Regions from separate parts of the Homo sapiens genome. Here region 2 is linked to region 1. Evidence: fine-mapped expression QTL. A gene starts in region 1. The other region holds a variant in brackets. All regions are shown on one strand. Distances are from middle to middle. Region 1 holds the start of SH3BP5L (SH3 binding domain protein 5 like). Region 2 has its middle 14 kb from the start of TRE-CTC2-1.

The links. PIP is the estimated chance that this variant, and not a neighbour inherited with it, causes the effect. A credible set is the group of variants that fine-mapping cannot tell apart.
Region 2: its variant is the best candidate, but not a certain one, in a credible set for the expression of SH3BP5L in whole blood (INTERVAL, PIP 0.60).

What each region holds. Positions count from the first base shown.
Region 1 is chr1:248,818,714-248,835,251 of GRCh38, forward strand. It overlaps SH3BP5L (SH3 binding domain protein 5 like), which reads right to left and starts at 7,202. Exons shown (of 7, transcript NM_030645.3): 1 at 7,122-7,202; 2 at 6,040-6,653. The coding sequence starts at 6,222. It overlaps MIR3124 (microRNA 3124), which reads left to right and starts at 7,664; the gene lies at 7,664-7,730. RefSeq lists a silencer at 177-471 and enhancers at 1,997-3,196, 6,874-6,933, 6,996-7,547, 7,304-7,563, 7,548-8,098 and 2 more.
Region 2 is chr1:248,880,161-248,896,698 of GRCh38, forward strand. It overlaps a transcript of PGBD2 not described here. Among named protein-coding and RNA genes, the nearest start is that of TRE-CTC2-1, 14 kb to the left of the region's middle. RefSeq lists cis regulatory regions at 4,824-5,036, 9,259-9,715 and silencers at 9,910-10,204, 15,712-15,894. The variant T/C (reference allele first, on the strand shown) is at 8,528.

The DNA of each region.
Region 1 (16,538 bases):
CAAGTCATCCTCCCTTGCCCGAGAAAACACAAAAGTTCCCAGAGCCCCTGGTGAGCTAAGGACACTACTGAGGAGCAGTGCTGGTCTGTGCCAAGGGCCTTGTGCCAGGAAATACCTGGTGCCTAGCTATAGGATTTGCCTTCACCAGCCCCTGCTGTCTCTGGACAGGAGGCTGGACAGGCCAGAGAGACCCAGCCCAGCATGTGCCTGCTGCCCAGACCCATGACTTGCACTTGGCAGTGACACCACAATCACTTCCCACTCATATGGCCGTGATGTTGGCCCCCACTCACCTCATTCGGGCCTTTCAGCAACCCAGTGAGGGAGTCAGGCTGACATGCACAATCTTCCTTTTAGTCCCTTCTACCTCTTCTATCCTCCCCCCATCCCCTGCCTTGATCCTGAAAAGATCTGGGTCAGCAGGTAAGAATACAGGAAATGGTTTGACATGTTAATTACAGTAACAGGAAGAACACAAAGGTAGAAACCTGTAATGGAACGAGGAATGAGGATATGAAAATGCACACACCTACCTACAACAGTGTAGACCCTGCCTAAGGAGGGCCACAAATCTGGCTCTAAACTAGGGATGTCCAATCTTTTTGCTTCCCTGGGACACACTGGAAGAAGAACTGTCCTGGGCCACACATAAAATACACTAACACTAACTACAGCTGATGAGCTTAAAAAAAAAAAAAAAAATCGTGGGCAGGCGCAGTGGCTCACACCTGTAATCCTAGCACTTCAGGAGGCCGAGGTGGGAAGATTGCCTGAGCTCAGGAGTTTGAGAACAGCCTGGGCAACATGATGCAAAGCCCATCTCTACTAAAATACAAAAAAATAGCTGGGTATGGTGGCACACACCTGTAGTCCCAGCTACTGGGACGGCTGAGGCAGGAGAATCACCTGAATCTGGGAGGCGGAAGTTGCAGTGGTCTGAGATTGTGCCACTGCACTCCAGCCTGGGTGAAGGAGCAAGACTCAGTCTCAAAAAAAAAAAAAAAAAAAAAAAATCACAAAAAAAAATCTCATAATGTTTTAAGAAAAGTTTACAAATTTGCATTGGGCCGTGTTCAAAGCCATCCTGGGCTGCATGCGGCCCACAGGCCACGGGTTGGAAAAGCTTGCTCTAAATTTTCTCGAAGAGACTTATTCAACAGAAACGTAACAGGAGCTGCACATGGAATTTTTAATTCTAGAAGCCACATTTTTTAAAAGTAAAAAAATTTAAAAAAAGAGTGAAATTATAAAAATACATTTAACCCAATATATACAAAATATATTTCAACATGTGATCAACATAAAATAATATTATTATCCATACTTTTACTTTTTTAAACTAAGTCTTCACAATCCGTATGCACTTGACTCTTGTGACACATCTCAACCTAGACAGTGGCATGTGGCTCCTGTGTTGGGTGGCGAAGGTCTAGAAGTTGTTGTATTTGGGTAGATGCATCTACAGTGTCCCACAACCCAGTGTCCATAAAATAACAACCATTCTGGAAGAACAGGCAGCCAACACAGCTCAGGGCCCCAGAGGAGGCATAGGGTCAGCATCAACACTACCAGACACATGGAACTCCAAGTTTCACAGTGCCTTCCGAACAGAGACATCACCAGCAACTGACACGATCACCCCAACAGGCCCTAAAAAGGCAATGTCTGTCAAGCTGAAAGGCAACCTACCTCCCTGGGGGCCCAGCTTCCTGGGGCTTGACGAGGCCTACAGGGGCTTTTAGGCTATCTGGGAGACGAGTGACCAGTTCTTTCAGCACCTCCTGCTGGAATATTCTTTCTCAGCAACTTTGCATTTGATAGATGAGAAACAACCAGGCGGAAAATTAGTGACAGACTTGGGTCTGGATCCAGGACCGACCTTTGATCTCACTTTCCTTCCACTGTGACCACCCTCCTGGGAATGAGGACACCACTGGAAGGACATCTCAGTAAAGAAAGAAGTGCTGTAATCTAGGAAAACCACAGCCCACGTAGGAAAAGGACAGGGATTGGAAATGCAACAAACATTGATTGTGGGGGGTCAGTTGGTAAAGGCCACCCTGCAATGTTCATGTGGCAAATCAAAGTCCAAGACGGGATCCCCACTGGATTCCATGGCCTCAAATGCTTCCAGTCATCAACTTCCAGCTCCTGACAAGATCATCAATGGATTGGATGGCTCAGCATAAGTTGTTACTACTGTTAAAAGGACAAGAAGAGCTGTTGCTATTGGCAAGTGGCAGGAGTGGGCATTATCTTTCTATATGGGAACTAGCTTCCCAGTGGCACCTCCAGCAATTTACAGAAAGCCATCTGCTGATGGGATCTGTCCCCTCAGAGTCACAAAGCTCTCCCTAACAGGACAAGAAGATGCCTGGGGAGCAAAGCAGCCTGGAGGGCAAGGTCACCACAGGAGGGAGGGGGATAGCCCACCTAGGCGACACCCAGGGAAAGGCTGAGCAGGAATCCACTGAGGACCTGGGACAGTTTTGGGCAGTCAGCAACACATTCCATTTGGCCTGCTTCACCAGGGACTCCTGGCACTCAGCTGAAACGGAATTTGGGGAGGACAAAGTCTGAATCAACGTGCATCATCCATCAGTGAGCCAGCAGCCAGCAGGGAGGGTGACCTTCCCAGGGCACAGCAGTCAGATTCCCAGGATGCCAGGACACTGAATCAAAGGCATGGGGACTCAGGCTGCAGATGCTCCCACCCCACCTAGTGCAGACCATCAAAAGACTCAAACTAATGGTAACTGGGGCCAGGGTGATGACTGTCCTGTGAAAGCTAAACCCATACTTCTAGATGAGGTCACAGAGGTTGCAAAGTCACCCTAGAGAGTTTGGAAAGGAGCAGGTAAACGAGAGCACTCACATCTGAGGAAAGAATGCAACCACTAAGAGGGGGCTGAGAAAGTCACAGAACAGACCCAGGTCCATCCTAGATCCACGCTCCTTTCCTCTTCCCTCCACTGGAACCCTCTCGGAAAGCTGAGGATGAGCCTGGAGGACTCAAAAGAACTCCACTAAGATCATGACAAGGAGACACAGCCAGCAGCCTTCCCTGGAGGGACAGCACGCTCCAGGTAGGCACCAGCTGACTTCCTTCTAACTTCCAGAGGAATCCCACCATAAATGGCCATGGAGCTGCCTGCCTGCAAAGGAGCCCCAGCCCCAGGTCAGACAGGGCCTCATCCGAAGGACAGCCATTTCCGGGAGCCTCAGAAAATACCGAAACAGGCGCTCTACCTTTGGGATATACCTGGCCCAGTGGATTTGGCTCTGACTGTAACATCAGAATCCCTTCTCACCCCACCCAGACTAAGAGAATCCACATGTCTGGAAAGGCTCAGGTAAGGGTATTTTTGAAGCTCCCTGGTGGCTTTTTATGGACGGTGGATGGAAACCCAGTAAATGCACTGAGAATCCAGAGAAATGAACACCCACCTAAAGCACTGAAACACATGATCAGAGCAATGTGCATGGTCTAGTGAACTGTCAACACTCAAAGGGACCTCGAAAGACAAACACCCCAATCTCCTCCTCATCTTGAAAGCCCAAGCACAGAAGGGCAAAATGCCACCGGCCTCCTCCGTGAAGGGTGCCCCTCAAGCCAGGCTGCCTCTCTCACACAGCAAGAAGACACTGACTCCCTGCTGAGGTCAGAGCACTGGCGTACCCACACCTGTGTCATCAAATGAGGGAAGCTATTACTAGACCTTTCCTCCCTATACAACCCACAACATTCCACAACGTGTTGTGCAGTTTAGCAAGAGAGACGAGGGTCTGCTTTACCTTTCCTGCACCAGCGACATCACAAGTTCACTGGAGGCAAAGTAAGTCTTACGCTACCTCAGTGTACTCCAACTCTCATAGAGCTCATCTGATAGAAGAGTCAGTGATGACAGAATATTCTATTTATGCACTGTCAGTATAACATTGAGGAACTGCTTTTTTTTTTTTTTCTGAGACGGAGTTTCGCTCTTGTCACCCAGGCTAGAGTGCAGTGGCAGATCTCAGCTCACTGCAACCTCCGCCTCCTGGGTTCAAGCAATTCTCCTGCCTCAACCCCCCAAGTAGCTGGGATTACAGGCACCCGCCACAACACCTGGCTAGCTTTTTTTATTTTTAGTAGAGACGGGTTTTCACCATGTTGGCCAGGCTGGTCTCAAACTCCTGACCTCAGGTGATCCACCTGCCTCGGCCTCCCAACATGCTGGGATTACAGGTGTGAGCCACCATGCCTGGCCGAGGAACTGCATTTTTACATGTTAATTTTAATTGATTGTGTTTAAATAGCCACATGCAGCTAGTCCACCCTATTAGACAGCACAATGCAAGCATGACTCTTCCTACTACTACCATGTGCCTATGCAGACACTGGAAAAATACATAGGAGTAGTAGAGGCCAAGTAAAGAGACCACAGTGGATTCTCCTCTGCAGAAGCCTTCTCTGGAGCAGGGCAAGGAAGGCTGTAGGGAGGCATATAATGCACATTACACAGCCCTCCTCCACAAGCAACAGAGAGACAGCTCTTTCCCAAAGTGCTATCTACAAACTATCACCAAGGAACAAGCAAAAAGAGTTTGAGAAAGAACTGTAGACTTGTGTCAGAGCAGAGCAAGAATGAGTTGTGCAAATCAGCTAGACCAACTGCTCACTTTACAGATGAAGAAACTGAGGCTCAGAAACGTAAAGAAACTTCCATAAAAATCATAAATCATGGGGTTGGAGGTAGCGTGAAACTCAGCCCAAGACTTTTTTCACTACAACTGATTTCCTCAGAGGATGATAAATCTGTAGAAATAGCAAGAAAAATTGGCTGTTTTCAATGCAATGTCAGGCAGAGCAGAAATAAATTACTGACTCATGCCAGAAACAAATGGCTCACCACTGCTCCATTATAAGCATGGACACAGTAGAAGAGGAACCCACACACACACACATATCCCAGGAACCCACACAGAGAGTGAAGGAAGAATGCCAGGACTGGCTTTGATTTCTTCCCAACTCACTGGAGTAATCCAATAAAGGTTTGCTGACAGATAAGCCTAGGAATTTGAGCCTTCATATGTTCTTGCTCACCTACAGAAGAGTCACTTCCACAACATCAGAGTCTTGGAGATGTGACCGGAACAAATGGCAGACTCAAGCCCCAAACATGCAGGAGCATCCTGGTCGTCACCTGCCCAAGAAGCTTCCTCAGGAAGTCATTCTCAGCCAATTCCCTGAAACACTGCAACCCAGCTTTGATTGGCCAGGCATCTCTTCCACATGGAGTTGGTCTTCCTCACTGACTACCCCCAGGTCTCCTACACAAAGATCTGCCTGTCCTACCAACTAGATTGTAGACACTCCAAGGCAATAAACTGCTCTTCCATTCCTTTAGGAGACCCACTATCCTGAGGGCCAGGTATGTATGTTACTAAGGATTGGCCACAACAAAAGTTACAAATCCTTGAACATATGGGGTTTCTTTATAGATCTAAAGTTGATGCTACCTTTATAACACTGGAAAGGTCTCACTGTTTACAAGGGTGAAACACATTATCAGAGCAATGTGGGCCGCACATCCCTGGAAGGTACCGCTGAGAAGGTGAGAAAGGGGAAAAGATTCTCTCACTCAGCCTCAAAACTGTCCCCCAGTATCAAAGTCATCTCCTCTCACACAGCATCCCTAACTAAGGTGGCAGCCCCTCTGCTTATCTGGAAAGAAGTACAACACACCTACCCTCCACTGACCTAAAGTGTGCCTCCTCCATCTACTGCCAAGTGACACTTTGCTCCTTCAGTGAAGCTTTCAGCAATGCCTCCCAAGCACTAAGGCCAGGCCTTTCTCTGCACTCCATCAGCACTTCAGACACACAACTCTTTTGGAACTTGTTACATTACCCTGCAATGATTTGTTGACAAACTTGTTCTCCTTTCCTGCCCCAGCAGACTGGGGACAGAGTAAGTCTAAGCCCTCATTCATCCAACACTCTTCAGGGAGGCTGGAATCTGGGCTCTCCTTCTCTCCCTGCTCTCAGTGCTCTCACCTGTATTCTAGGATCCAGTTCTTCCTCCTCTCTTGGGGACAATTTGGCCTCACTGCTGCTGCTTCCACCTCCTCCAGGCTCTTCTGCGACTGGGCTCCTAGGGACTTCATCCTCTACAACTTCAGGCCGCAGCTCCCCCTGTGGGGTCTCCCGCCCTCCTGGAACCTGTCTGAGCTCAGCCATGCTGACAGGGGGAGGGCAGAGCCCTATGCACAAGAGAGGACTGACATGCTGGGACCAGGGCCCCAGCTTGGGGCTTCCTGGGCTCTAGATGGCCAGGAGAAGAGTTTCTCTTCTCAAAAGGCAGAAAAGGTGGGCACAGGAAGAACCTCACACTAGGTTAGAGGTTGAGATTCAAGTTGTCAGTGGGGTTCCTAGAGCTGAAGCCTTGTCTGTGCAAAAGTTCTTCCCTTCCCGCCACAGGGAGTCCACTGTGACAAACCCGGAGCAACAGCTCCAAGGCAGGGGGCAAAGGGGGCTTGGATCCTGGACCGAGGCCTGCTAGGAGGAGCACCATTCGGGAGGGTGGAGGCAGGCGCCTCCAGGCTGTGGTGGCAGCTGGAGAGAGAAGGCTGGGCCCGAGCTGAGGCTGTAGGATGAGCGTCTCTGGGGAGCTGCAGAGAAACAAAGGCCAAGTATATGGTCATGTCAGCATCAAAACCGCAGCCACCAGCCCCTTCCAACTCTACAGCCTCCCAAAAACTACACTCTCACCACGCCCCCACCCATGTATTCCGACCAGTCCCTACCTCAACTTCTCTCCTTAGCCCTCAAGGACTTTAGATTCTACTCTTCCCCCGTCCCAGCTCCTCTCGACCCAGGCCCTCCTCAACCAGCGCCTTCGAGACTTTCCTCTGCACCCCTAGGCTCTCCTCCATCTCCTGTGGTCTCCCGCTCGTCCCACTCCACCCCAGCCCGGCTTTGCGATTCACCTTGTAACCCCGAGCCCCACCCCACCTTCTCTGTCCAACCCGAGACATCTAAGCCTCCCGTCTCCAATTCCACACTCTTCCGCAATCCCAAGGACCCTACTCCCGTCCATTCTACCCAGCCATGCGCAAAAGCCCCCCGCACAGCCTTACCTCAGTTTACCTTCCCGTCCGCGGAGCTTCTATGCTGCAAACAATCTCCCCCCCTCCCTCCCCGCAACAAGCCGATCCAACCAAAAACGACCAGGCAGACCAGAAGCGGAAATACATCATCGGTGAACAACGCTCTCCCTCCCACGCTCTCTCTCAAGCCGGGCCTCCTCGGGAGGCCTCACACTCCCCCGCCCTGCCTTCAGTTTCCGTACAAAATGGTGCCCCACGTTGCTCAGGCTAGCCGTAGGTTGCCTCCAGACCATACTCCACCAAGGCTGAATGAAAGAAAAACATGAGAATGTGGTGCTGAAGAAAATTAGGGCGCGGGACGGAAATCGAGAGTAACTGGTGAGAAGAGGAATACTAGATATAAAACGGAGATAATAGCCTCAGAGTGAGTAGTGCCATCTTGCTTTACGGAGCTGCGGCGGCGGCTGCCGGAAAGCCACTTCCGGCCTGCTCCACGGAGGCGGGCGCGACGCCGAAAGTGAGCTGGTAAACTTCCGGCAGTGGCTCCGGGGGCAACTCGAGTCCGGACGCTGGCGGGCTTCGCGGGCGAAGGCAAAGTCGATTTCCAAAAGTGACTTTCCTCACTCCCGTGAAGTCGGCGGAACCCTCCACTAACGGCGTCTGAGCGGACGGCTCCGATGTGTAAATCCCACTCCTCGAGGCCTCTGGACCTTGCACCTTGAACGACGTTTTGGTGGGGTCACCAATTGCTCCGTGAATACTAACCAGGAACTTAGTCAACATTAACTCAGTTAATTCACTCGTGCACCCAGGGTCAGATGCCCTCGATGAGCAGGAGTTTGTTACATGGCATTGTGTATCGTTACCTAGGTCCCTGAGCGAGCGCCTGCTTGTCACCTCTAGGTGTCGCTTGGTGAGGGGAGGGCCTAGGCCTAAGGGGAAGGGCTTCATTCAGGGTTGGATGTTTTGTTTTTACAAAAGGCGTAACTTCCTCAGAGTCAACTCAAAACTTTGCCCTGCAGATGGAAAAGGCAAATGGGCTGAATTCCCCTCCTTTTTGGATCCTGTCAAAGACAACCCAGCTAGACATTGAAGCAGTGAAAAAGACTTTTTTCAGTAACTACTTACAGAAAGGAAAAGAACTGACCTCTGTTCCGATTTGTACAGAAGTGACTGGGCATTTCAAAGGGAGAATGAAGGAAGGAAGGTGATCAGGGCTCAATAGTGTTGGAGAAGTGAAAAATTACAGATTTGATTGGCATAGATGCGATTCGGCCAGATGTGTCTGCTAGCTAGCAGCTATAGAAGTTAGAGTGCTTTTTTATGTATTTATTTATTTTGAGACGGAGTTTAACTCTTGTTGCCCAGGCTGGAGTGCAATGGCGCGATCTTGGCTCACTGCAACCTCCGCCCCACCCCCACCCCCGAGTACAAGAGATTCTCCTGCCTCAGCCTCCCGAGTAGCTGGGATTACAGGTGCATGCCAACACATCTGGCTAATTTTTCTATTTTTAGTAGAGACGGGGTTTCGCCACGTTGGCCAGGCTGGTCTCGAACTCCTGACCTCAGGTGATCCACCCGCCTGGGCATCCCAAAGTGCTAGGATTAGAGGCGTGAGCCACCACGCCCAGCCTAGCTTGCTATTCTTGCACTGAGATTGGGAGGTAGAGGCTCTGCCCTTCTTGACGATCAATTTCAAAGGAATGGCTCTCAGGTCCTTTAGAAGGACCTCTTGAGTTGTAGCAGACGCATAAACACCTTAAAGAGAAGAAGGAAGGATTCATAATGGTAAGCCCTTAATAAACGCCCTGAGAAAGGGAGGTCAGGAGCCTATCATCAGGTGTTGGCTAGAACAAATAGTAAATTCTCCTGGTAGCATTGAGCTTTCTCAGGCAGGCATTTTCATGGGGGAGCTGGGGTTCTCCTAGGGACATGATCTGACACTGCTAGAAGGCATGCTAAAGTTTGTCTCTTAGTAACTCAGAGGTTTGGATGGAGTCATGTGCCAAGAGTTCTACAGTTCTCAGTCCATTTCTTCTATCCCTTCATCCCATGAATAACGATTTTTTTAAATTGAGCAGAGCAAAATATATTCCTTTAAAAGAGGTGATTGAAAACAGATTTTTCCATTAAATTGGAGGTTTTGTTTTTAAAATTACAAAAGTGATTTTTCTAATTTCAATAAGTCAGCAGGACCTTGAGTAACATTGTCTAAGTGGACAGCTTTGATGGATAATAATGCCTCAGTCTTCTACCACAGTCCTTTTTATTATTAAGGTGCCATACAAAAACCATAAAAATTAAATATAAGGTGATAAACATGATTTATTTGTTGTCTACCAGTCACTTTACTTTTGTAGAACTAGAATTTCACTGTAATAACCTCATTTTACCCAGGATGTTCTGTCTACCCTAGCCTGAATTATCTAACCTTTCTTATTCAGCACTGCTCCAATACCTGTCATTCTTATACCCCATCCCATAGCTCCTTTTCTCTGTGTAATGCTTAGCAATCACAAACTGCTGCTACGTGTCACAGATCTTTGGTGGGAAAACATTATGAATACATATAATGGCCAGACCCCTAGATCACATCCTGAGATTTAGCAGCTCCTTTAAAGTCTCCACTGGCCTCTTCCAAGGTTAACTCTCACCCACTGAGACCACATGTGAATCTATCATGTATAGATTGTGATATAATCCCACAATAGTTTTTCTGCTGGGTTTGGATAATGTTTTGGGTAGGAAGAGATTGGGCGATGCTGTGCATTGATTTAACCTGAACTTGTTTATTGAAGCCAGCACAAACATGATGAATTAAAACTTTTGTCTACAGCAGCACTGTCTGAAAGACCTTTCTGCAAAGAAGGAAATGTTAATCAGCTCTGCACAGTATGGTAGTCTGTAGACACATGTGGCCATTTAGAACTTGAAATGGAGCTACTGTGATTAAGAAGTTGTATTTTTTATTTTAATTTAAATAGCTCTGTGTAGCTAGTTTCTCCTTTCCTGGACAGCACGTTTTTAGAACCTGCCTTTTCTATATAATTTCTCCAGAATACATACTGAACTTTCACATCTTCAATACAAAACAAACAGCCTCTCAGTCTCCACTATCATTTGTCTTTTCTCCACTTCCTCCCTTCCCATTCACCCCTACAGTCTGGCTCCGGATGCTGCCAATTCATAGGAATTACAAAGATAAGGTCATCCATGCTCTCAATATTGCCACATCACTGACATCTGACACTGGGTTATTTCTCTCTTTTTTCTTATCATTTAGCTTCTGAGTCACCCTGGTACTGGGTTTCCTCTTCTCTGGCTTGTTGATTCATTCCTTTATGCAATATGTCTTTACGGAGTGCCTATTACGTGCCAGAATTTCAGGCAATGATGAGAAAAAGGACACTATCTCACTTCCCATGTAGGTGATAGTCTATGGTGCTCATTTTATTTTATTTTTGTTTATTTATTTATTTACTTATTTTTACTTATTTATTTGAGATGGAGTCTCACGCTGTCGCCAGGCTGGAGTGCAATGGCACGATCTCAGTTCACTGCAACCTCCGCCTCCCAGGTTCAAGTGATTCTCCTGCCTTAGCCTCCTGAGCAGCTGAGACTACAGGCACATGCCACCACGCCCAGCTAATTTTTTTGTATTTTTAGTATAGACAGGGTTTCACCATGTTGGTGAGGCCGGTCTCCAACTCCTGACCTCAAGTGATCCACCTGCCTCAGCCTCCTAAAGTGCTGGGATTACAAGTGTGAGCCACCACGCCCAGCCGATGGTGCTCATTTTATAAACTGGTGAGATTCAAACTAATTGGAAGACAACTCAGATATATGTTTTACCTTGCAACCCAGTATACATATATGTGTGTAAATATATTCATTAAAAAGGTACAGGACCTCTCCCCTCTCCCCTCTCCCCTCTCCCCTCTCCCCTCTCCCCTCTCTCCTCTCCCCTCTCCCCTGCACGGTCTCCCTCTGATGCCGAGCTCTCCCTCTGATGCCGAGCCGAAGCTGGACTGTACTGCTGCCATCTCGGCTCACTGCAACCTCCCTGCCTGATTCTCTTGCCTCAGCCTGCCGAGTGCCTGCGATTGCAGGCGCGCGCCGCCACGCCTGACTGGTTTTCGTATTTTTTGGTGGAGACGGGGTTTCGCCGTGTTGGCCCGGCTGGTCTCCAGCTCCTGACCGCGAGTGATCCGCCAGCCTCGGCCTCCCGAGGTGCCGGGATTGCAGACGGAGTGTTGCTTACTCAGTGCTCAATGTTGCCCAGGCTGGAGTGCAGTGGCGTGATCTCGGCTGGCTACAACCTCCACCTCCCAGCCGCCTGCCTTGGCCTCCCAAAGTGCCAAGATTGCAGCCTCTGCCCGGCCGCCATCCCGTCTAGGAAGTGAGGAGCGTCTCTGCCCGGCCGCCCATCGTCTGGGATGTGGGGAGCGCCTCTGCCCCACCGCCCCGTCTGGGGTGTGAGGAGCATCTCTGACCGAATGCCCTGTCTGAGAAGTGAGGAGCCCCTCCGCCCGGCCGCCGCCCCGTCTGGGAAGTGAGGAGCCCCTCTGCCCAGCCGCCACCCCGTCTGGGAGGTGGGGGGCCCCTCTGCCCGGCAGCCGCCCCGTCTGGGAAGTGAGGAGCCCCTCTGCCCGGCCGCCACCCCATCTGGGAGGTGTACCCAACAGCTCATTGAGAACGGGCCATGATGACAATGGCGGTTTTGTCGAATAGAAAAGGGGGAAATGTGGGGAAAAGAAAGATCAGATTGTTATTGTCTCTGTGTAGAAAGAAGTAGACATAGGAGACTCCATTTTGTTCTGTACTAGGAAAAATTCTTCTGCCTTGGGATGCTGTTAATCTTACCCCCAACCCCGTGCTCTCTGAAACATGTGCTGTGGCCACTAAGGGTTAAATGGATTAAGGGCTGTGCAAGATGTGCTTTGTTAAACAGATGCTTGAAGGCAGCAGGCTCCTTAAGAGTCATCACCACTCCCTAATCTCAAGTACCCAGGGACACAAACACTGCGGAAGGCGGCCCTCTGCCTAGGAAAACCAGAGACCTTTGTTCACATGTTTATCTGCTGACCTTCCCTCCACTATTGTCCTATGACGCTGCCAAATCCCCCTCTCTGAGAAACACCCAAGAATGATCAATAAATACTAAAAAAAAAAAAAAAAAAAAAAAGGTACAGGAAAAGATCTTTACCCAAATTATATGTAAAGCACATTAATATTTTTATACTATTTTTAAATGCTGGTGGAGATCTCTTGTTGATTTCATTACCTATTCACAGTTTGAAAACCCTGTCCTAAATGTTACTGTACCCCAGGCCCTGATGTTAGCTTCTGACCATCTCATGCTGCCTACTTTCCCTGAGTGTCCTTACCCTAGTGCATGGCTGTAGTCCTTACCCATGGCTACTGTTCCTTCCTTAGAGCTCTGTCTTCACAGACTTTCCGCAGATCACATTCTGAGATCCTTCAGCCTTTGAGATACCGCTGGCCTGTCCCAGAGTTGCCCCTCTCTCATGGATCCAAATCTGATTTCATCCCCTTTGCCAAATCCTGCTCTTCTGACATTCAATGCTGGTAAGCGGTTCTACAGTCCACCTCTTTACCCTACGGAAAAACCTAGAAGGCACCCCCCACATTGCTTTTCATCACACTAAGTATCTCAGAGAGATGCCTTCTGTTCATCTCATTGCCATAGCTTCAGCTTAGACTCTCCTCATTTCCATCATAGATCACATACCTCAGAAGTCTTCTAAATCAGCGCTTAAAGTAGCACTTAAGCAATGATGGAAGTTACTATATTTGCACTGTCCAATATGGTAGCTACTAGTCATGTGTAGCTCTTGAGCAGGTTTAAATAGCCACATATGGATCCTGCCACAAGGATCCCTCCTAGTTCCTGGCACTAATAAACAACCAACCAATCCCTATAGACTGACTTTATGAGTGAAATGTAAAAATATGAAAGCCATATAAAGATGTTAGCAACACTGTCAATTACTATGTAATATCACAAATCAACTTTACTTCTTAGTTAAATAATTTTTTCATAAATTTTTACTTGTAACTTTTATTTCTAATTTTCTCACATAAGTACCCTAAATTGCCTCCATCATTAAAAATTACCTTTTTTAGGTTTTTTTTGTCTACCAACATAAGCTACCTTTTTATAGTTCTTAACTTTTTTCTACTATCAGTTATATATTTAATAAATACCACCATTAATTGCTGATTAAACATATTAGTTGACAAATATATAGTAATAGAAAGCAGATCAGTGGTTGCCTGGTGGGGAGGTGGTAGAGATTACAAAGTGGCATGAAGCAGCTTGTGGGTAGTGGATATGTTCTCCATCTTGATTGTAGTGAGGCTTTCATGCGGGTATATATATGTCAGAGCTTTTCAAACTGTACATTTCAGTGTGTAATTTGTGTATCAATTATACCTCCCTAAAACTTTTTTAAAAATCCAGTTGAAAACTTGCTCCCAGAAATATATAATGTAAAATCTACTAATAAATGTTAATGGAAGGGACAGCCTGTATTACGCTTATTTGTTTATTTAACTTTTTAGAGACAGGGTCCTGTTCAGTCACCCAGGCTGGAGTGCAGTGGCCTGATAATAGCCCACTGCAGCCTCAAACTCCGGGGCGCAAGCAATCCTTTTGCCTCAGCCTCCCAAGTAGCAAAGACTACAGGCCTTCACCACCATGCCTGGATAATGTTTTGATTTTTGTTTTTGTAAAGATTGGGTCTTGCTATGTTGCTCAGGCTGGTTGTGAACTCCTGGCCTCAAACAGTCCTCCTGCCTCAGCCTCCCAAACCATTAGAATTACGGACGTGAGCCCCCACGCTTGCCCTAAACCTGTATTACTAAAAATCTTTATTTTTACCCTTGTTAAATCTGCTGAGTTTTCCAGAGGTAAATTACTTCCCCGAGTTGCTCATCACATGTCATAATAAAAACAGCAAACACTTATGCAGTGTATGCCTTGCACCTGGCACTGTTCTGGTTTATTCATTTGATCCTCACAAAAACCAACTACAGTAAATTGTACCTTCATTTTACAGTTGAAGAAATTGACAGACAAGGAGATTAAATAACTTGTCCAAGGTCATACTGCTGCTAAGTGGTGGAACCAGTCTTTAAACACAGACAAAAGTATTTAAGATTTTTAAAAATAATTTATAGCAACACATCATATATTAAATGTATCTACTTACATTTTAAATGCTCTAATTTGTGAAAATAACCAAAATCAAAATGCTTTCTAAAGATCCGACAGGTTTGCATGTGATACCATTATTATTTATACTACTGTTCTTTTTTATTTTATTTATTTTTTATTTTTTGAGATGGAGTCTCGCTCCGTCGCCCAGGCTGGACTGCAGTGGCGCGATCTAGGCTCACTGCAAGCTCCATCTCCCGGGTTCATGCCATTTGCCTGCCTCAGCCTCCCAAGTAGCTGGAACTACAGGTGCCCACCACCACGCCCGGCTAATTTTTTGTATTTTTTAGTAGAGACGGGGTTTCGCCGTGTTAGCCAGGATGGTCTTGATCTCCTGACCTTGTGATCCGCCCGCCTCGGCCTCCCAAAGTGCTGGGATTACAGGCGTGAGCCACCACGCCCAGCCCCTATACTACTGTTCTTAACCTTTAAAGTGGTTTCAATTATAAAAACTGATTCTATCCTACCTTGCATTTTACTTTGAAACTGATTTTCCCCCTGAAAGTTCTGCTTTATGATTTTAAGCTCATTTTCTGTGTTTTGTTTTGTGAACCACTGAGCCTAGATGTGAATTTTGAACATAATTTCCATATAACATAACTCAAAAAATTGTGGTTAAGGACTAGGAAGCAATTTGTATTTTAAAGGAAGTTGATCTTCAGATATCCTCTAAACAAATATTCTACTTTTGTGCTATTCCAATTTTATCTACTTTACTATAGCTCTTCACAATTAGTTTACCTGTACAAATGTAAAAATAATTAAAGTAGCATTCTCTCCGATGGAATCGTGTTTGAGCCCTTGAAGTTGACCACAGACTGTAAGCAGCACAAACTCCAATAATTTTCTATTAAGATTACTGTTTAAAAGACATTAAATCCTCTGTGTCAAGCCATTAAGATTAATATGTGTGTTATTGATTCAATTTATGTTTTTGCTTATCTTCTTGTTTCCTGAAATCCATTTTGATATGGCTTTACAATATGTTTGCAACTTGCAATTAATACAAACCCTTATTCCTTAAACACTAAATAAAATCTTCATTTCAGGATTTAGTCAGCCAGTCTTTCCAGATCTTATTATTCTAAATTGTTAGATTTCACTTTTCTGTACTTGGTTCTTTCCTGTATTTGAAAACTGTGTCAGTTGACATCTGTGGAATTATTCGGGGAAGAACTGGAAGCTACCATGCTCTAGAAGCCAATATTTTTATTGTAACTGAAATTAGAATGTTTGAAGAATGGCAAACATTGTATTTAGCAATACAGGAATAAGATTCATGAAATTGAAACAGTCTTCTCAGTCCTTATACCCCCAGTAACACAGTAAGCCTTCAGCATCTGATTTTTGGCATTGTGAATATCCACTGGGCTCACATTTCAGACAGGGATTTGAAATAGTGGTCTATACCTTAGCCCTACTTACTTGCCTTTCAGTTGCCCCCAACAGCAACGTAAGCCATGTACTATGTGCCTGCTCTGCATGCCTATAACTTTTACTTCCCTTCCTTTCTGTCTCACTTCATAAACCACTGACAGTGCCCTCTAGCCAAACATAACCACCTTGATGCTGTTTGACTTACTTCAGCATTGGACATTGTCCACCACTTCCTCACATGGGAATCTAAAACCTGACCGTGTCCTGACCTTCTTCCTCCCCAAAGCCTTTACTGGCTTCCCCTTCTGCAGCTGCTTCCTTTTGGAGGCTGGTGCTCTAGGTATGGTGCCTTCAGCCCCTACTAATCCACCTATAGCCTCTTAGAAATGTCATCCACGCCCACGGCTTCGCGTATTCGCCTCTAACTTCCTAGTCTTTACAAATCCTGATACACCATGGCTCCTCCTCTTCTCACTGAGGGAGGCCTACACCCTTGGGTATGGGATAGACTCTATACTGTAAAGGAACATAATTTATTCATCTCTATATTTCTATTACCCAGCCAGGTGCAGACTCAGTGGGTCCTCAATAAAAGCTTCTGAAAAGGAGGAATTCCTTGATTTAGCCCAAAACTTATTTGCATTTCCTCTTCCAATACCTTCACCCACTCTACCTTCTTGAATTCCTGTCCCACCCCACTCAGCATCTTCCACAGGATTCTGAGCCTCCTCCACTCACTCAGTCTGGATTGAGTGCATGCTCACTCCCTTCCTGTTCATCTAATCCCTCTGCCTGACCCAGTCCCATCACTTATATTGCAGAAATCTGCC
Region 2 (16,538 bases), 61 kb after region 1:
GCAAGTCTATTTTTGTCTTGTGAATCTGCTCCATGAGAAGACCTGATTGACCCTCAAAGCTGTTGTCTCCACCCTGGATGTATCCATTCCATGTGAGCAGTTTTGGACCAATTTGGATACCTGTCAGTTTTCCAGGACTCAATTTTATCCAGTGAAGAAAAGGCATATGACATTTTTTGTAATGTTGTTGTTGCCAGTCAGATGCTTAGTGGTTAGGGCTTCATGTGTAAGCCGTATGTATTTTTGAATGGGCTGTATTTGTTGTTCGAGTATGGGAATTTTGTTATCTGAAATCCAACCAGTAGGAAAGATTTAGAATCTAGTTTCTATGTCCATAATGATCATGTTCTATATTCATCACTCATCAGAACTTTCAACCCAAGTTGTGAATCTGAAGATGGGTAATGCAGTGATTGAAATGTGCTAATGTAGTCTTTGAGTGTTTCAAGTTCTTGTCCATATGTGAAGTCTTGGGATTTTCTAGATATATTGGTTCCAAGATGATGTTTAAGTAAGGTGTATGCTGTCTCCAATATCCAGATAAAACTGTTAGTCTTTGTTCCTCCTGTTTGTTTTTGTCAGCTTAAGGGCTTTTATTTTATCTATTACTGTGGTTGAGATTTTTCTCCCTTCTGATGACCATCGGACTCCTAAAAATTTGCAGTTGGTGTCTGGGCTTGTGTTTTTATCTATATTAATAGTCTATCCCAATAATCTTAAATGTGTTATTAATTGGGATTTTTTCCTGTTTAATTTGTTCCCTAGTCATTATTTAGCATTATGATGTTATCTCTGTATAATATTATTAGTGACTTGTAGCATGATGTGTCTCCCACCAGGTTACTTAAGGGTATGCATCTGCTGCCTGAACCCTGAGACTGAGCAGTGAGCCAAAGCCATGGTGCCCAGCCTAGGAGCAGGGGTCCCTGAGAGCCCAAACATCCCGTGGAGTATCTGAGAACCTTCCGAGAAAAACAGTCTCATTGCTTAAACACAGTAGGCAAAGAGCCAGAAAATTAGCTTAAGCAGTTTAGAAATGAGAGGTGGTGTGGATCTCTAGAGCTATCCTACCACCATCCAGGAGTCCCTGTATGTAAGTCCAAATACATTCATTTACTTCTCAAGCTGGACTTGTCCAAGTCATTCTTTGGTTCTTGGTTTCTTTCCAGTTTGGGGGATGCACATCACGGTCCCAAGTTTTTCTTGTTATAGATGTATATTTTGATTGGTCTATGTGTGATGACAAAATGGAATGAACTATTACTGAACTATTTAGATATCCCTGTGGTAATGTTTTGAATTGGTATTGTTTACCTTCCCATGTAAAGTTGGTATATTCCTGGCTTGCTTTATTTATTGGTTTGGCAAAGAACACATCTGACATGTCTATGATTGTATAGTATTTGTCATTATGATTAATGATCTTATTAACTAGCTCTTCTACATCTGGTAATGCTCTTGGCATTTTAGTTGAGACTTTATTTAAATTTCTATAGTCAATAGTTAATCTATAGCTCCTGTTTGTTTTTAAGACAGGCCATACTGAACTATTAAAGTTATTTGAAATGACAATTGTAATAATATCTTCCTTGAGGAGTTCTACAATCTTTGCTGTTATTTCTTTAAGTCCTTCCTTTAATGAGTACTGTTTGGTGCATGTAACCTGCTGTGGTGTAGACAGTGTTATGGACTTCATTTTAATTTGAACTAGGTTAGAAAATTTTAGTTCCTCTAGTTTCCTTTAATATAAGTTAAAAAGATTTGGAATAAAATTCATTCCTGTAATGTCTTATAATTTGGGTGAGCAGTAAAAAGTGCATAGAGCAGTATAGAAGCAGAGGCAAGAAAGCTTCAAGTTTATTTACCTCTGAGTCCTTCTGTATGAATGTTTATTGTGGGATCTGGCCAGCAGCCCGCAATGCAATGGGGCTCTCTCTTTGTTCCCAGGCAGATCGGCAGGTTGAGAAATAATAGACACACACAAGATAGTGAAAGCTGGGTCCAGGGGGGTCACCGCCTTCTGGTCCCACGGAGCCAAAAATGCACGGGATATACCAGCATTTATTATTAAGTTTAGTGAGGGCAGGGGTAGGTTAGTGAGGGATTTAGGGTCATTTGATTATGAGGTTAGATGGTCACATGGGGATGAAGTAATTCTTTAACATAACATCTGTATGCAGAAGTACAGTATACAGAGATAAGAATTTACAATATAGTGTGTGCATCAGTAATTTCTAACAGAGCCTTAAAACAGAAACACAGTATTTCCATTACCTATGATTAGCAAGATATTAATCAGCAGTAACAGTTGCAGGAAAAGCTGGTTACAAACAATCCATAGAAACAGGACATGAAGCTAGACAATCGGTTAGACCAGAAATTCTCAGAAGGGAGTATGCCTTAACCCTAAAGAGGCCTAGAAGAGCCGTGGCAAGATGAGGGCGTTTATAGCCCTATCTTATCCATATGGACAGGCGCCCCTCATGTGTCTGTTTATAGGCTCTCCACAAGGGTTGCATTCCATTCCCAGAGCTATGAACATCTGTTTTCCTGGGATAGGAATCTTAGTGATGTGAAACCTCCCTGACCGCACGTCCATTCATAGGCTCTCTGCAGGGGGAAGCACATCATGCACTGTTGGCTCGTTCTGGCAGTCCAACCTGGCATTGTCTTTACACAATCCTGCATGCAATTTTGTATTTACAATAATCAGGAGCATTTCATCTTTTATTCCGTAGCAATAGTTTCAGGGGGTCTCCCTACAAATGTTTATGTCAGAATGTGGTGCATTATATTTTAGAAAGCTTACTTGTGATCCAGAGCCTTAAAAAAATGGTATGTATGTATATATTTGTCAATTTGTATATAGCTAATTGTTCATATGGTCTGTTATCCCCAGGTTTGAGTGTTATAGCCTGCACCTGGAGGGTTTCTAGTTTTTAAAGAATTTCTTTGTTTGTTTGTTTTTTGTTTGTTTTTTGAGACAGAGTTTCACTCCTGTTGCCCAGGCTGGAGTGCAATGGCGGGATCTCGGCTCACCACAACCTCCGCCTCCCAGGTTCAAGTGATTCTCCTGCCTCAGCCTCTCGAGTAGCTGGGATTACAGGCATGTGCCACTACGCCTGGCTAATTTTGTATTTTTAGTAGAGATGAGGTTTCTCCATGTTGGTCAGGCTGGTCTCAAACTCCCAACCTCAGGTGATCCGCCGCCTCGGCCTCCCAAAGTGCTGGGATTACAGGTGTGAGCCACTGCACCCGGTCCTTTGCCCATTTTTAAATGGAGTTATTTGTTTTTTGCTTGATGATTTGTTTCAGTTTCAGTTCTTTATAGATTCTGGATATTAGGCCTTTTTCAGATGTATAGTTTGTGAAAATTTTCTCCCAGCCTGTCTGTTCACTCTGCTGATAGTTTCTTTTTTTTTTCTTTTTTTTTTTTTTTTTTTTTGAGACAGAGTCTTGCTCCTGTCGCCTTGTCGCCCAGGCTGGAGTGCAGTGGCACGATCTCGGCTTACTGCAACCTCAGCCTCCCAGGTTCGAGTGATTCTCCTGCCTCAGCCTTCCAAGTAGTTGGTACTACAGGCGCCCGCCACGATGCCCAGCTAATTTTTTTGTATTTTTAGTAGAGACTGGGTTTCACCATGTTAGCCAGGATGGTCTCGATCTCCTGACCTCATGATCCGCCCGCCTCGGCCTCCCAAAGTGCTGGGATTACAGGCATGAGCCACCGTGCCCGACCCTAGTTTCTTCTACTGTGCAGAAGCTCGTTAGTTTAATTAGGTCCCACCTGCCAATTTTTCTTTTAGTTGCAATTGCTTTTGAGCACTTAGTCATAAATTATTTGCTAAGGCTGATATCCAGAAGAGTATTTCCCAGGTTTTCTTCTAGGATTTTTATAGTTGGAGGTCTTATATTTAAATATTTAATCCATCTGGAATTAATTTTTGTAATTAGGTAGAGTCCTAATTTTGTAAAAGGTAGAGTCCAGCTTCATTCTTCTGCATATGGCTAGTAAGACACAAAATTTGAGTTAAGCTGTGTTAATGAAAAAAACCAAACTCTGTAAAATATTTTAAAGTGGTTTATTCTAAGCCAATATAAGTGATTTCAGCCCAACGAAACCAGTCTCAAGGAGTCTTGGGAAAGTGCCTTTGAGGTGATCAGATTACAGTTTTTCGTTTTTGTTTGTGTTTTTTTTTTTGAGACAGAGTCTCGCTCTGTAGCCCAGGCTGGAGTGCAGTGGCGCGATCTCGGCTCATTGCAACCTTCGCCTCCTGGGTCCTGGTTCAAGCAGTTCTCCTGCCTCAGCCTTCTGAGTAGCTGGGATTACAGGCACACACCACCATGCCCAGCTAATTTTTGTATTTTTAGTAGAGACGGGGTTTCACCCTATCAGCCAGGATGGTCTTGAACTCCTGACCTGGTGATCCGCCCACCTCATTATAGTTTTTTAAAAACACATTTTAGGGAGCAAGAGTTACAGGCAAAGACAAATCAATACATGGAAGGTATACATTGGTTTGGCCTGAAAAGGTGGGCTATCTTGAAGCAGGGGCTTATAGGTTATAGATAGATTCAGAGATTCTTTAATTTCAGTTGAATGAGTAAAGCTCTGTCTAAAACTTGGAGTCAGCAGAAAGAAATGTTTTAAGTTAGGATAATAATGCTATGTAGCAAGATTAATGACCTGCAGGTGTGCCTTAAGTCATGCCTGGCATGGTCTTAGGTCTTGTTTATAATTTGATATCTCATTACCACAATGAGTCTGTTTTGTCAGTCTTATGATCTCTATTTTCAGATGAATCCTGGTCAGTTTTTGTGCCTTAAATTTAAAAGGAAGAGGGTAAAATGAGGTGTATCCTACTTCCCATCTCATAGTGGCCAGAACTCAGTTTTTTAAGTGAGACTGCAGACTTTTTTTGCAGTCCCCTTGGCCACAAGGGGTCTCTTCTGTCATTGGAGGACTTAGGATTTTATTTTATTATCATTTTTTTAGAGGCAGGATCTCACTCTTTTGCCTGGGGTGGAGTGCAGTGGCATAATCATAGCTCACTGTAACCTTGAACTCCTGGCCTGAAGTGATTCTCTCACTTCAGTTTCTTGAGTAGCTAGGACTACAGGCATGAGCCACGATGTCTGGCTACTTTTTAATTTTTTTTTTTTTGTAGAGATGGGGTTTTGCTACGTTTCCCAGACTGGTCTTGAACTCCTAGCCTTAAGCTATCCTCTCACCTCAGCCTCCTGCATGGCTAGGACTACAGGTGTGTGACCCCATGCTCAGCTAAAAATTTTATTTTTAGTTTACATTTGTTACATCAGGAATAGAAAATTAATATAGTACCCAACAGAGCCACAATTATTTTAATTTCAAAACCCAGTCTTGGTTCAGAAGCTAGACCTCCTTTGAATTAGACATGGGACTAATGAATGCACCCTCCAACCAACTCTATCCCACTTAAAGATAGTGAGGGTAGGGACCCCAGGAGAAACAGTGCTTGATGAAGACTATCTTAACAGTTCTATAACCCCCACACTCATCCTGTTCTTTATATATTTGAAGCTGACCATAAGAGAGGAATCACGGACCAGTTCCCTGGCCATTTCCTTCCTAAATTCTGCATTGAGAGATCTGTAATATCTGATGTATCTAAATTGGCAATTCAAAGTAAAGCAGAGATGCATTTGAATAACCTGCTACACATGCAAATAGTTGCTAAATAAACACATGCAGGCCTTGAGATGGAACTATGTATCACATTTTCACATCTGCCATTAGAACATAATGTCTTCCTTCTACAAAGTGAACTTTCCTACCCTGTCAGTTTACTCCTCAGTAATTTGTCTTAAGGTGTTACAAGGATACAAATCATGAATGAAAAAAAAAATAAGAAACGTGTCTTATGATATTTTGTGCAAATAATGGTTACCAAAGAAAGGCCTTGTTGATGTTAACTCTGGTTTGCACCAACTTGCCCCATGTCCAAACGAGGAAAGTGATGAAGACAGATCTCTCAGTGGCTGCTACATGCTAGGTTTTTTTCAGGAAGATTTACATTTTATTACCATAAAGACAAAAAAATAAAAATAGGAATGTATGAGTTATCAATATCACCAGCCTGATACTTGAGTGTACATTATTCATAGAAATATCATTATCTAAATCAGTCTTAGGGTGATCACCTAAATGAGTTCTCACCTCTGGGACTAATTGCTTTCTTGTGCTGAGAAGTGAGGATGACTGTTGATTTAGTACAAGAGATTAATTACTTTCAGAGCTCCTTCAGAGATCATTTGTACTCCATCTGAAAGATTGATCTGTTTGAATTCAAATTATACCACTGAGATATTGAACAAAAAGCAGCTAAAGAGAAGAAAAATATCTTCCTAGACATTGGGATAAAAGGTGGGGGTTGGGGAATCTGATTTTCATGTTGGAGAATTGCATTTTTGGAGTTTAAACTGCCCAGCTGCCCTTAGACTCATCCTGGACTCTTGCCATTTGCTTCCTCTGCCTGGGGAGACAGCACTTTGTGAATGCATGCTCCAGCTGTGTGGCCCCAGCCTGGTCTTCTGGGAATGAGGAATGTTGGCAGGAGTTGAGGGATCACCATAATAAGCTCTTATTAACTGGCGTTTCTTGGGATTCTCTTTGGAGGGTTCAAAAGGAAACTTTAAAAGCATTTACTTCCTGTGATAAAGCAGTCAACAGCAAACCTGTAGTGAAAGGATCACAGGTTTCCAAAGAGCAAGCTAATTAGAAAATCTCAAGGGGGTAAAACTCTGCAGCATGCCAGTGGTTTGGCTGCCCATTATGATATATATTGTACTCAGGATTACAGGATATATAATATTTATGTATGTTTTTATGCATGCATATGTATATGTATTTGTTATACACACATAAGCTTACTATTTATTTTGAAAATATTTTAGACTTATAGAAAAGTTACAAAAATTATAAAAAAATATAGCCTTCACTCAGCTTATCCTAAGGCTAACATTTTACCTGATCATAGTATTGTTTCCAAAACCAGAAAGTTATCACTGATACAACGCAATTGACTAAAATACAGGCCTTACTCAAATTTCCCCAGCTTTCTCACTAATGTCTAATCCAGGATCCCAAATTGCATTTGATTGACACATCTTCTTAATCTCTTTCCATCTCTGATGGTTCCTCAGTCTTTCCTTGTCTTTTTTGACCTGGACGCTTTTTAGGAGTTCTACTCAGTTGTCTTGTTGAATGGCCCTGAGTTTGAGTTTGTTGGCTGTTTGTTCATTATTAAATAGAGGACATGCATTTGGCAAGAGTGCCACAGAAGTTATATTGTACGCTTCCCAGAGCATTATATCAGGAGGCATATAATACCAATCCATCTTGTTAGTAATGATGTTATTCTTAATTAGCAAAAATGAGTTTTCAGTTAGGAGATGATGGGAGCGAAACACACCAAACCAGTAGAATGCTCCAGTCTGGACAAGAAACTGGCTTGATGGAAGGCAATGGCTTTGTAAAAAATTTAATTTTAATTTTAGATTCAGGGGGTACTTGTGCAGGTTTATCATTAGGTTGTGGCAAAAGTGATTGCGATTTTTGCCATTACGTTCAATGGCAAAAACCACAAACACTTTTGCACCAACCTAACACAAGGGCAGATTGTGTGATGCTGAGCTTTGGGCTTCTGTTGATCCCATCACCCAAACAGTGGACATAGTACTCAATAGGAAGTTTTTCAGCCCTTGCTCCTCTCCCTCTCTGCCTCCTTTTGGAGTCTCCAGTGTCTGTTGTTCCTAACTTTATGTCCATGTGTACCCAGAGTTTAGCCCCCACTACTAAGTGAGAACACATGATATTTGCTTTTCTGTTTCTGTGTTAATTCACTTAGGATAATGACCTCCAGCTGCATACATGTTGCTGCAAAGGACATAATTCTATTCTTTTTTTATGGTAGTGTAGTACTCCATGGTATATATGTACCACAGTTTCTTAATGCAATCCACCGTGGATGGTCATCTAGTTGATTCTATATCCATGCTATTGTGAATAGTGCTGCAATAAACTTATGAGCGCAGGTGTCTTTTTGGTAGAACAATATATTTACCCTTGAATATATACCCAGTAATGGGATTCATGGGTTGAATGGTAGTTCTAGGTTCCTTGAGAAATCTCCTAACTGCTTTCCACAGGGGCTGAACTAATTTACATTCCCACATAAGTATTCCCTTTTCTCTACAGCCTTGCCAGCATCTGTTATATTGTTACTTTTTAGTAATACTCATTCTGACTGGTGTGAGATGATATCTCATTGTGGTTTTGATTTGTATTTCTCTGATGATTAGTGATGTTGAACTTTTTTTACATATTGGTTGGCTCTATGTCTTCTTTTGAAAATTGTCTATTCATGCCCTTTGCTCATTTTTTAATGGAGTTGTTTTTTGCTTGTTGATTTGTTTCAGTTCCTTATAGATTCTGGATATTAGACCTTTGTCAGATGTATAATTTGTGAATATTTTCTCCCATTCTGTAGGT[T/C]GTCTGTTTATTCTGTTGATAGTTTCTTTTTCTGTGCAGAAGCTCTTTAGTTTAATTAGGCCCAACTTGTCAATTTTTGTTTTTGTTGCAATTGTTTTTGAGCACCTAGTCATAAATTATTTGCCAAGGCGAATGTCCGGAAGTGTATTTCCTAGGTTTTCTTCTAGGATTTTTTATAGTTTGAGGTCTTACATTTAAATCTTTAATTCATCTTATTTTTTGTATATGCTGAGAAGTAGGAGTCTAATTTCATTCTTCTGCATATGGTTAGCCAGTTTTCCCAGCACTATTTATTGAATAGGGAGTCCTTTTCCCATAAACACTGGCTTTGATGCATTCTAAGTGTTTCTTACTTTTGACTATGACTTATAATAGCAACAATAACAAGAATGATAAAAATAAAAAATGAAATACATGGGCCGGTAACTGTGGCTCACGCCTGTAATCACAGCACTTTGAGAGGCCAAGGTGGGCAGATCATGAGGTCAGGAGTTCGAGACCAGCCTGGCCAACATGGCGAAACCCCATCTCTACCAAAAATACAAAAATTAGCTGGATGTGGTGGTGCGTGCCTGTAATCCTAGCTACTCAGGAGGCTGAGGCAGGAGAATCGCTTGAACCTGGGAGGCAGAGATTGCAGTGAGCCAAGATCATGCCACTGCACTCCAGCCTGGGTGACGGAGCGAGACTTCTCCGTCTCAAAAAGAAAATAAATAAATAAATAAATAACACTTACTGAGCCGGACACTGTACTAAATGTTTTCCGTTTAATATTGTTTTCATTTAATTCTTACGACAAATTATGAGATAGGTACTGAGAGAGCAGGAGCACCGTCATCTCAAACAAACACTGCAAGCTCCCTTTCTAGCTTCATGCATTTCAAGGAAATCACTTATCTTCTAACTACAAGCAGCCAGAAAAGAGCAGACAGTAAAACACAGATAAGGCAGCTCGGGGACAGGGAAAGGAGGGGAGGAAGTCTCTTAGGTAACTGCCAAACTTCACCCTCATACACTGGAGCCCCAGTAAAACAGTGGGCCTTAATAAGCACATTCCTTTCCCTTCAGGTGCTCTAAGACAGGGAAGCTAAAGGCAGACTCGGGGGATATGCTTGCAGCTGCAGAAAAATGTATGGGAACAGACACAACTCTCCCTCCCAGATAGGCAAAACAAAGAGTCACAGAAGCAGTCCAAGCCTCTGATAAACTCTCCCACCCTGAATCCTTTTCTTTTTCTTTTCTTTTTTTTTTTTTTTTGAGACGGAGTTTCGCTCTTGTTGCCCAGGCTGGAGTGCAATGGTGTGATCTCAGCTCACCACAACCTCCACCTCCCGGGTTCAAGTGATTCTCCTGCCTCAGCCTCCCAAGCAGCTGGGATTACAGGCATGCGCCACCACGCCCAGCTAATTTTGTATTTTTAGTAGAGACGGGGTTTCTCCATGTTGGTCATGCTGGTCTCAAACTCCCGACCTCAAGTGATCCGCCTGACTCAGCCTCCCACAGTGCTGGGTTACAGGCGTGAGTCTCTGCACCCGGCCTGAATCCTTAAAAACTCTTACTCTGCAAGAGTGCAGCTTCTGCCCTAACTAGGTCAGAAGTCCCCACAGGTTTGTTTTCTGAAATAAACCTGTCTTCTGTCGAGCCACCCTTCATCTTTCTCTCCTCTTTCTTTAATTCTTACAGGTACTATTATTGTGTTCACCGTTTTTATGCGAAGAAACAGATGCAATGGGATTAGGAATCTTGCCCAAGGTCACAAAGTTCCTATGAGCCAGTGTCAAGATGCAAGTTTAGGCTGCCTGGCTCCTGACTATTCTACACAAACCATGTGGTCTCTTACCAGTCTAAGGGCTACAGAAGTAATCCATGTCATGAAAGGACTCAGCCCACTTACAATCACTCACCCCACACACTACATGCACCACACACATACCACATCATACACATTATACACACACCACACATACCACACCTCACAGATACACACATGCACCATACACACCAACACCGACCCCCACACACACCCACACCCAGCTACGCTACAGACCACCCACACTACACATTATACATTACACACCCCGCACACCACACATCACAGATGCACACACGCACCACACACCACACACACAACATACACCACACACACCCACACACACCACACACCTCCCCACACATCCACAGCCCCCCATCACACTGCAGATGCTATGCATCACAGATACACACATGCACCACACACCACACCTCCCCACCCCCGACACAGCCACACCTCTCTACACACCACAGACATCACACATCACAGACACACACATTCACCACCCACCACACACCCACAATATACACGCAGGCATGCACATACCACTCACAAATCACTCACGCACTGACGCATGCATGGTAACATAGACATACACTCATGGTTACATAACTGAAAAAAAGTTATGCAAACAAAATGTGTCTCTGTCAGATGTGTTGCTCCAACATTTTGTTTTGTCTTTCATTTTATTTTTTAGAGTGCTGGACACTGCCCACTACATTAATGGTTCTCTCAAGGTGGGGCAGCCCTGCCTGTAGCCAACTAGACTGAGATAACAGTATTAGCCTCTTCTCTACAAATCCAATTTGAGGCCAGACAACAGAGGGAACTCGGTGGGTGAGGACAGTGTAGACTGGCTGTGCTGTAGATATTTTTGAGAAAATTTGTGATTGTGAGTGGGGCATATGGGTTATACTTTTTGGGTTTCATGATATAAATTTTGAGAATGCTTGATTCAATGATTTGTCATCTCTTTTGCTTAATAAGAGATATATACTTTGATGAAGAGCCACAAGAGAATGTCTAAAGTACTTTTAAGAAATATTTTTGGGCCAGGCACAGTGGTGCACACCTGTCATCCCAGCCCTTTGGGAGGCTGAGGCAGGTGAATTGCGTGAGCCCAGGAGTTCAAGACCAGCCTGGGTAACATGGCAAGACCTCATCTCTACTAAAAATTTAAAAATCAGCCAGGCACAGATGCCTGTATTCCTAGGTACTAGGGAAGCTGAAGCGGGAAGATGGCTTGAGCCCTGAAGGTTGAGGCTGCAGTGAGCCAAGATTGAGCCACTGCATTCCAGCCTGGGCAACAGAATGACAGCCTGTCTTTTTAAAAAAGAAAAAAAAGTGTTTTTGAAGAAAAGTCCAATCTCTTGTAAATAAAGTCTTTATAGCTAATTTATACTTTCTAGGTAATGACTAACACAATGAAAACTAAGCTCTTTATGAAGTCTTTGCAGTAAAGGGTTGATTCAGCAGAAAAAAAGGCGTCGCCTGTGTCAACCCCAAATAACCAAAAGGATCAGAATCTAGTTTAAAGAGAGTTTATTCAAGCACAAAGTTGAGGACAGGCCTGCCTGGGAAGCACAGATTCCAAAGAATGGAAGTCAGTGCTCCAAACTGTAGATTTGAGATTGCTTATATAGACAAAGCATGGGGAAGTTTAACAGACTTTCAACATCTTTCTATATAAGGGTTAATGCATAGTTACAACAATCTGAGTAGGTCAAGGTAGTCTTGTTCCTTCCTTCCCTCCCTCCCTCCCTCCCTCCCTCCCTCCCTTCCTTCCTTCCTTCCTTCCTTCCCTTCCTTCCTTCTTTCCTTTCTTCCTTTTACTTTATTTCTTTCTTTGAAAGGCATATTTAGCATTCTACCCTGACGATGTAACGGTCATAGAGGGACTTGGGTGTCATCTGGTCTGAGTTAGTTACAGGACAATAAAGGAGGCAGTTAATCTAAAAAAAAAAAATCAGTGATTGGATGGAGGCGTGAAGGTCTGGTTTCTGGTCTCCTAGTCATTTATAGAACAAGAATAAAAATGAAGAGAGTTAAGCTGTAATCTAAGAAGCACAACTGTAAACATTCTATGTGATTCAATCTCTGGGACTTAACTTCTCCTTTGGCATAATATATTTAGAGGGTCCTGAAATTTTCTTTTCTTTCACACCTGGCTATTAAGAAGCTACCTCTAAGCCCTTGGAATATCCTGCCTGATAAAAGTGTTTTTATTTACTTGCAGCTTGGGCTACCCCAGACAGTCTATGTGAACAATATGATTTATGGTGTGGGCCTTGACTCATGCAGTACCAGCTTGACCTTTGGATGGGTTGGAGACTCAGGCTAACCACTCAGGTAGTCAATCATATCTATTTGACTCACCTCTGAGAGAAACTCTGGACACCCAGGCTTGAGTGTCCTTCCCTGGTTGACAATTGTCTATATGCATTGTCATACGTTGTTGCTTGGAAAACTAAGCACTGTCTATACAACTGCACAGGGAAAAGACAACTGGAAGTCTGTTGTGGTCTTTTCTGGATACTCTATATGTTTTACCTTTGGTCATTTATTTTTCCCAGATTTATTGAGGTATAATTGGTATCCAGAAAATGGCACATAATTAATGTATACAATTTGGACATAGGTGCATACTCATGTTACCATCACCTCAGTAAAGGCAATGAACACATCCATCAATTTCAGAAGTTTCCTTTTATCCCTTTGTTGTTGTTTTCGATAAGAACATTCAACATGAGAAAAATCCTCTAACATTTTTAAGTGCACAAAACCTTATTGTTAACTTACGCACTATGTTGTACAGCAGTTCTTCAGAACTTATGTTATGTAACTGTAACTTTATATCCATTGAATAACAACTCCCCATATCCCTCTCCCCCATCTCCTGGTAACCAGGATTCTATTGCCTACTTTTTATATGTTTGACTATTTTAAATACCTCATATAAGAGGAATCAGGCAGTATCTGTCGTACTGTAACTGACTTATTTCATTTAGTATCATGTCTTTCAAGTCCATCTAAATGACTGCAAATAGTAGGATTTCCTTCTTTTTAAAAGGCTGAATAATATTCTGTTGTCTGTATGTTTGTGTATACACATGTGCATTTTCTTTATCCACTCATCTCTCAATGGACATTTATTTGGGTTGTTTCCATATCTTGGCTATTGTGGATAATGCTACTATCAATGGGAGTGCAAATACCTCTTCAAGATTCTAATGTTTATTCTTTTGGCTACATACCCACAAGTGTTATTGCTGGATTATTTGACAGTTCTAGTTTAAGTCTTTTTTTCAGGAAACTCCATTCTATTTTCCATAATAGCTGTATTAATTCACATCTCCACCAACAATGTATAAGGTTTCCCTTTTCATTACATCTTTGACAACATTCTTTTCTTTTTTGTTAATTGATTGATTGATTAAAGACATTCTAACAGGTATGAGATGATATTTCACTGTGGTTTTGATTCCTGTTTCTCTGATGATTAGTGATGTTGAGCATCTTTTTATATGTCTGCTGGCCCTGGCCATTTGTAGGTCTTTGGAGAAATGTGTGTACTCAGGTCCTTTGCTCATTTTTATATCAGGTTATTTTTGTTTTTGCTATTTATAGGAGTTCCTTATGTTGGAAATTAACCCATCATCAGATATGTTCTTTGAAAATATTTTCTCTCATTCTTTGGGTTGTCTTTTTATTTTATGGGTTGTTTCCTTTGTAATGCTGAAACTTTTTAGTTTGATATAGTCCCACTTGTCTATTTTTGGGTTTTTTTTGTGGTTTTTTTTGCCTGTCTTTTTGCTGTCAGATATATGAAATCATTGCCTGGACCTAGAAAAGTCAAGGAGCTTTACTTCTATGTTTTCTTCTAGGATTTTTAGGGTTATATAACTTACGTTTTAGTGGTTAATCCATTTTGAGTTAATTTTTGTGTATGGTGTAAGACAAGACTCCGATTACATGCTTTTGGATGTGGATATACAATTTTCCCTATTTATTGAAGAGACTATCATTTTCCTATTGTGTATTCATGGCACTCTTGTTAAACATCAGCTGACAATGTATGCATGGGTACCTTTGCTGATTTTAACCTGTATTCTTTCACTTTAATAAGTCAAAACTCACTGTAATGAATATACACATTTTCTTTTTTCTTCTTTTTCCCTTTCTTCCCTCCCTCCCTCCCTCCCTCCTTTCTTTCTTGCTTGCTTGCTTGCTTGCTTGCTTTCCTTTCCTTCCTTCCCCTTCCCCTTCCTCTTCTCCTTCCTTCCTTTTCTCTCTCTCTCTTTCTTTCTTCTTTCTTAGATGAGGTCTCGCTCTGATTGTCACTGGCTGGAGTGCAATGACACAATCATAGCTCACTGCAACCTCAAACTCCTGTGCTCATGTGATCCTCCTGCCTCAGCCTCCTGAGTAGTTGGGACTCCAGGTGTGTATGGCCTGCATCTGGCTATTTTGTTGTTGTTGTTAATTTTTTTAGAGATGGGATCTTGCTATGTTGTCCAGGCTGGTCTCTAACTTCTAGTCTCAAGCTATCCTCCCAACTCAGCCTCCCAAAGTGTTGGAATTATAGGCTTGAGCCATCACACCCAGCCTATAACAACTTTTCTGAGTTCTGTAAGTCCTTCCAGCCAGTCATTGAACCTGAGAGTGGTCTTTGGGTCAACCAACAACAGGCCAATGTTTGGGAACTTAACAAAGAGAAAGAAGCCAGAGGAGTGTGACTGTGGCCACAGTCTGGTTTTCCTCTGATTTCACAGGGACCAGTCCTGCCCACAGAGTGCTAGGCCTCCTCTTTGGTGGTGAGTAGCCCCCATATTTGTGGCTATACTGCCAGCCCAACCTGGCACACAAAGAGGAGGAAGGACAAAGAGGAGGAAGAAGGTCTGAGTAGCAAGGGTTCTGCTGCTCAAGGAAGCAAGACTACCTTTAAGAATTGGCTCCTGTTCTGTTCCCCAATCCAATAATCATCCTCGTGTCTGGTGCTGTTAGACATTTAAGGAATTAAATATCTTAATGATATTTAAGGCTTGCAGGGTATTTTTTTTTCTTCATTATTTTGGAGGAAACAGGTGGTTCTTGGTTACGTGGATAAGTTCTTTAGTGGGATTTCTGAGATTTTGGTGCACTAAGATTTTGGTACCTGAGCAGTGTACACTGTACCCAATGTATAGATTTTTTTGTTTTGTTTTGTTTTTAGACAGAACCTTGCTCTGTCACCAGGCTGGAGTGCAGTGGCGTGATCTTGGCTCACTGCAACTTCCGCCTCCCAGGTTCAAGCGATTCTCTTGCCTCAGCCTCCCAAGCAGCTGGGACTACAGGCACGTGCCACCACGCCCAGCTAATTTTTGTATTTTTAGTAGAGACAGGGTTTCACCATGTTGGCCAGGATGGTCTTGATCGCTTGACCTTGTGATCCGCTCACCTCGGCCTCCCAAAGTGCTGGGATTACAGGCATGAGCTACTGCACCCGGCCCACTGTATAGTCTTTTATCCATCACGCCCCTCCGACCCTTCCCCCGCCCCGAGTCCCAGAAGTCTATTATATCATTCTTATGCCTTTGCATCCTCATAGCTTAGCTCCCTTATAAGTGAGAGCATACAATATTTGATTTTCCATTCCTGAGTTACTTCACTTAGAATAATGGTCTTCAACTCCATCCAAGTTGCTGCAAATGTACGGCTTGCAGTTTTATGCAGTTTTAAATAGGCTCCCTGGTTCTCAGGCCGTTGACTCAAATTGGAATTACAACACTGGCTTTCCTGGGTCTTCAGCTTGCAGACAGCAGATTTTGAAACCTCTTAGTCTCCATAATCCATAAGCCAATTTCTCATAAATCTTTTCATATATACATATATATATATATTCTCTTGGTTCTCTTTATCTGGAAAACTCTAACTCTCACAATCATGCATACGTTTATCATTCCTTATGGATATTCTTTTTCTTTTAGAGATGGGGTCTTGCTCTGTCACCTAGGTTGGAGTGCAGTGGCACGATCACAGCTCACGGCAGCCTCAAGCTCCTGGGCTCAAGCAATCTTCCTGCCTCAGCCTCCTGAGTAGCAGCACACCTATAGCTCCAGCTGCTTCTAATTGGCCATCTTGGCCCCTCCCTCCTACAAAAAACTTTTAGAGGGAAGGGACAAAATTACTGATTAGAAGCAGCTGCAGTCTTCAGCGCTCACC